Linked DNA regions of Homo sapiens: region 2 is linked to region 1. Evidence: fine-mapped expression QTL. A gene starts in region 1. The other region holds a variant in brackets. All regions are shown on one strand. Distances are from middle to middle. Region 1 holds the start of CACNA1D (calcium voltage-gated channel subunit alpha1 D). Region 2 overlaps CACNA1D (calcium voltage-gated channel subunit alpha1 D).

What was found.
Region 2: its variant is fine-mapped to the expression of CACNA1D in whole blood (TOPMed, PIP above 0.99).

What each region holds. Positions count from the first base shown.
Region 1 is chr3:53,492,793-53,495,695 of GRCh38, reverse strand. It overlaps CACNA1D (calcium voltage-gated channel subunit alpha1 D), which reads right to left and starts at 1,085. Exons shown (of 48, transcript NM_001128840.3): 1 at 463-1,085. The coding sequence starts at 529. RefSeq lists enhancers at 1-20, 21-806, 1,137-1,636.
Region 2 is chr3:53,701,021-53,703,923 of GRCh38, reverse strand. CACNA1D (calcium voltage-gated channel subunit alpha1 D) reads right to left here. Exons shown (of 48, transcript NM_001128840.3): 9 at 1,114-1,283. Among named protein-coding and RNA genes, the nearest start is that of CHDH, 140 kb to the left of the region's middle. The variant C/T (reference allele first, on the strand shown) is at 1,355.

The DNA of each region.
Region 1 (2,903 bases):
CGAAACCGGGCAATCCTAGAATTTTCCGGATGCCACCAGGGACCTTCTTCCTAGTCAACGAGGGGGCGGGGGAGGAGTGGAAGGCGAGAAGAGGCTGGCAAGGGGGCTCCGGCTGAAGACTTGCGGCCCTCCTGCCATCGCTCGGGGGCGTTGAAGGAAAGTTGAGCCCGAGGACACTGAACCCGAATCACCCCGACTCGCCGCCCCTCCGGCTGCACCGCGCTCCACACACTCCACGGCCGCCCCCACCCCACAAATGCAGAATTAACTCTGACATTCAGGGCCTGGAGGGGAGCGCGGAGTGGCTGTCACGCATGTCCCCTCTCTGTGTAGACGACACCGAGCTGGCAGCACCCTCTCCAACCCCCTCAACCCATCCAGCGCCGCGGGGAAGGGGGAGGGGGCTGGAGGACCATGACAGGATCGGATTTGGCAGCGGGTGCCCGGGCTCTGGCTGCTCACCGTTCGCGTGGTCCGCTTGCTGCTGCCGTTGATGCTGCATTTTTTTCATCATCATCATCATCATCATCCACGAACATTTATTGAGCGACTACTGTGTGCAGGGCACTGTGCTGGGCGTTGAGGCGGGGGCGGAATGGGGAAGGGGATCACCAAGAGGTAGGAGCCGCGGTCCCTGCCCTTATTCTCGCTTCAGCAGGGGGGTGGGGAGGGACGGGGACAAATAACAGAAAATAAGGATAATTGATTTAAAAAAAAAACCGCTCGCCACCCAAGCTCTCTCTTTTTCAAAAATGGAGCAAAATAAACTTTTTAAAAAAATAAAATCCAATGTATATATTATCTTAATAATATATACATGTAATTTTTTGCTGCAAAGGAGAACTGGCTTGTCCCCTCCTCTAGCGGAGAGACGCCGCGGTGATGCCGGCCCGGCCGCCGGGGCCGCTCGGCGCTCCCCCCATGCCCGCCCGTCTGCCCGCCCGCCGCGGTGCCCGGTGCCCGCCGCCGCCGCCCGCGCCGCCGCTGGCTCGGGACCGCGGGCAGCCGGAGCTCACATCCGGGGACGGAGGCGCTCGCCCGCCCGCTCGCTCCGCGCCCGCCGCGCCGCGCCGCACGCCGGCTTCGCCCTGGCGACGCTGCGCGCCCGCCGCCGTCCCCCGCCCTCCGCCCGCCCCGAGCCGCCCACGGCCCGCGCCGCGCCGCGCCCCGGCGGGTCTGCAGCCCGGCGCGCGGTTCTGCCCGGCACCACTTGCGCGCTCGGGGTGGCCGTCGCGTGGGACTCGGGGTGCCGCCACCCCAGCCTGGCCCGGCTGACCTGCGGGCTCCAAAGGGTTAAGCGCGCTCCAGCGGCGGGCTGCCCGGTTAACCCCCTCCGCGCCGCACGGTGCGCTCTCCCCCCGGGACCCGGAGGAGGCAGGCGGCGCCAGTGTCTCCCGCGGCGCTGGGGTGCGGATGAACCGCTCCTCCCCGCGCATTTCTGGGCTGGGGGACAGCTCGGGCTCCCGCGCCGGCCCCGACTCCGCGCCGGCCTCCTCTGCGCACACCTGGAGGAGGCCCCGCCCCCTGGGAGCTCAGGTGCTAGCGGGCGGTAGCTGCTGCGGTCTCCGAGCTCATCCTCGTCAAGGCTCGGCCGGGCTCCCTGGCTGCTCCGGAGCGGGGCAGGCGCCCCCTGCTTTTCTCCGGCCCTTTCTGGAATCGGGGGGGTTGGGGTAGCCCGGGTCTGTAGAGAGCACTCACTACCCCAGGTAACTGCCTGCAGCTGGAACCGCGAATCCAGGGCGCCCCCCATCTTCTCCCCTGCCCTGCGCCTGGCCTGGCGTCGCGGAAGGCAACGGGGATGGGGGGCAATATCTCCCCCCACCCCACCCCGCCCCCACGTGTGTTTGGAGGCAGGTACAGGGAAGTCAAAGCCAAGGTCTTTCAAACCGCTCGTGTTGTTCAAGGAAATAGACGGTGCTGCTGAAACTGTTGCCTCCAGTCTGGGAGCTGAAGGGAGTAGTTTATTTTTTGATACCTTCGCTGGCTTGGATTTAGGGTGGGGGAGATTTGCAAACGGCAGCTCCTGTCTAAAGGGGAAAATACTTTATCTAGTGGATGACTGATATTTTTCATTTAGCTTTGTGCTGCCTGTTAGGAGAAGGGCGTCTGCTTTGTTACTTCACAGGATTCGATTTATTTGCTTTTGTTCCTATCTGCATGTTCCTACGGCGTTTTAGAACGTTTCAGAACAGTGACTTTAAAGCGAAAATAAAGTAAAAGCTCAGCGTGAATTAAGAAAAATAAGTGTTTATGGGAAGGTGCTCCTTACCCAAAGAGAACACACTAGTCATCCTCAATTGTTGGGGGGCACCTGGGCAGAGAGACTGGGGACCAGACAGAAGACTCTCCAGAGGCCTTCCTGAGGGGGTGTCTGGTCCGTGAGGATGAAAACAACCAGGCTCTTGTCCTTTTTTGTGCTTTGTTTTTGGAGACTGGAGAGGCGAGAAATCGCCCTACGGTCTAGTAACAATATAAAGCTGGCCTGGGCCACCTCTCCTATGGCTGCTTCTGATCCAAAATCTGAAGGGAATAGAAGACGGTTCCCTCCAAAGAAACTAGCCCATCCAAGGAGCATGTATGAAATTCACAAGTACACATGTCACTTTCAGAACTCCTGGTCTAAAGCCTTGCCTCTTGAGGCCTTTTCTACAAAATTCCCTGAGCAAGTTTGTTTTATGATACCTTTGCTGGCTCAGATTTGGAATGGGGGAGATTTGCAAACAGCAGCTCCTGTCTAGAGGGAAAAATACTGTATCTAGTGGATGACTGAGCCGAACCATATTTGCTCATTGTTCAGTTCAGTGCAGCCAGCATTCATAAGGCACCGGTTAAGAATAAGGGTCTGGTCTAGATGTCAGGACAAATCTATGGCACAGTTCCTTCCTCAAGGACAACCTAATGAC
Region 2 (2,903 bases), 210 kb before region 1:
CTGTCCTCGATCCCTCGTCGGCGGTGCCTGCCCTCTATGTGTGCCCTGCAGCTCTGCTCCCCAGGGCTGCATTTAGTGTGACAGGCCTGTCTCTCCCTAGGAGGCAGCACTCCACATCCTCTCCAGCTCTGGGTTTCCCCTGTACCCAGCAACAGGCCTTGCTGAGAGCAAAACATCCAAGGCGCTCTGCTCAAGCAGGGACTTGCTCGGCCATCTTCTACAACGTAGGGCCGGCCTCGGGTCCCCAGGCCTCTCAATGGACATGTGCACTTGAAGTACGTTCTTGGTCCTTCCTATCCAACTCTTCTAGATTTGAAGCAAGTCACAGACATCTCAGTCAAATGCATTGCTGGATTCCAGTTTCCACTCTGACCCGAGGCACAAAGGGCCCCAGAGAGAATAAGAGCGCATCTGTGGGAAAAGTATGCAGTGAAAGAGACACCGTGGTTGACAATGGCAATTAATGTCAGTGATGGACTGAGTTCTCAGGCCTTGCCTCCTGCAGAAGGTGCTCTAGGGTGCTTAGTGTCACAGTGTGGGGTGTCGATGGGTGACAGCAAAGCAGCTGTCACTGACTCACGTGCCCCTTAACACCTGCCTAGAATGGTGAGCCGGTTTCCTCCCAGCCCCTGATGGGCTAAGCATATGGCTTCATATGAATAGCACATGTAGGAGCCATGTCAGGTGGCCTAAGAGTAAGAGTCAAGAGGAACCCTGCACTTCAAATTCTTGTCCAATAACACTGTTCACTCTGAGGTGAGGGAAACCACAGCTTCTTCTCCTGTGGTACAAGAATATGTGTCTCATCACCCCTGTGCCCGCACAGAAATGCGCTTACTGAATTTCCCAGGCCAACAGTGGGTCCGTTTGACCTTCCTTGGCTATAAAGCCACCTTACCAAATACAACTCTAAACCCCAAACCTCAGGCAGAAATCCAGAGTCAGCACCAATGCACCTGTTCTCTCCGTGATGTGTGCAGGCAGAAGGGACCAGATGGCTGGGAGGAGGCTGTCCCACTCACAGCCTGGGTCAGAGTCGAGGAAGGCCTACTGCTAGGCGTCTGAACCGCACACTGGGTCTGTCTAGCCAGGGGCAGGAAAGGCGCTACATACTATTTCGTTTGCCTTCCTCTCCTCCTTCTTCCTCATTCTCCGGATCGATGTCCTCAGCTTGGGTGATCCAATCCAAGTAGCCCTTTAGATCCTCCTCCAGCTGCTGCTTCTCCCGGAGCTTCTGGAAATCTCCCCGTGCTTTTGCCTTCTCTCTTTCCTTTGAGAATTCTCTGAAGGAGGCAAAGAGGACAAGCACATATCAGGACATCCTTGGGGACCTGCATCCTGAGCCACTGCCCTA[C/T]TGCACAACAGTCTTGTGGGCAGGACACACAGCACTGAGTATAGTCACATGAGCACAGCAATGGAGCCACACACTTGGACAGGACAGAAGACAGTGTCTTCCAAAGCAAGACTATGGGGGTCAGAGTCGCAGAGCCCACACCAACACACATGCATCATTTCTTAGAAAATGAACTCCCCTCGATGACAGCGATCTCAAGGGGCCTAGGCCCAAAACACCATGTGCTGTCATGGCAGGCCTCTGACACCCCCCAACAAGGGGCCTGAACTCAGAGACGCCCCACTTTCCCCAGAGCCTCCTCAAAGAGGAGGGACCCAAATGGGCCAAGCTGTGGTCAAAGAGTACCAAGTTTAGAACTTCTTCAATGCTTTTGGACAAACTTTGCATTAATATTGTGTGCTACCCCTTTTGTCCAAACCAAGAGCTCTGAGCAGGCAGCAGTCCTTGCTGGTGCCCACACTAGGCTCCTCTACCCATCACCTGCAGGTTCGGGCCAGAGCAGTGCATGGAGTCAGGGCAGTCCCCACCCCCTCCACAACCCAGTTCTCCCTTCCCAGATGGGAACTCGAGCACTGATGAAGCATTACTGTTTTTCTTAACCCCTGCTACTTGTCATGGTCTTCCCCAAAAGTCTTCCCTGCAGGAGGGGAAGAGGCATATGATTTTCTGCCCATTTATAGGAACACCTGCCCTGGAAAAGATCTGGCAGACAGGTAAATGTTCCCAATTGTGGGGTGTTTATGCTACTTTCCACCATGTGTGCAAGCCTCTGACTATGCATATATACAAAACCCCACATACTCAGGCAAGCCTGAGAGTCAGGTGGACGATTACCCAATTTTTATATATGAGGAACCATCTGCATCTCCAACCGTGAGTTGTTATAGGAGCCAAGATATGTGAGTTAGAGACTTAGTAAAAAGCTGCCAAGGAAGCAGGTGAGGTTACAGCAATGCAGTTTCTGCACACAGACCTTGAGATTCTGACACAGGTTACTTCTGTCTGCCTTCTTGCCTTTGTTCCGAGTCAAAGCCAGCATGTCTCTTTCAGGGTCCTACCTCGATAAGCCAACCCAACCCAACTCAACCCAACCCAACCCACGAATGGGGAAGTGACCTGCTTTCATAAAGCTAACCCCAGCCAGGCACGGTGGCTCACGCCTGTAATCCCAGCACTTTGGGAAGCCAAGGTGGGTGGATCATGAGGTCAGGAGTTTGAGACCAGCCTGGTCAACATGGTGAAACCCCATCTCTACTAAAATAAAAAGAATTAGCTGGGCATGGTGGTGCAGTCCCAGTTACTCAGGAGGCTGAGGCAAGAGAATTGCTTGAACCTGGGAGGCAGAGGTTGCAGTGAGCCAAGTTCATGCCACTGCATTCCAGCCTGGGCAACAGAGCAAGACGCTGTCTCCAAAATAATAATAATAATAATAACAACAACAACAAAACTAACCCCATATTCACACCCGTCTCTTAACTCTAGGCTGTCGAGGGGCTGAACAGATGCTTGCACACCCAGTGACACTAATACTTCAGATAAGAAACTGGAA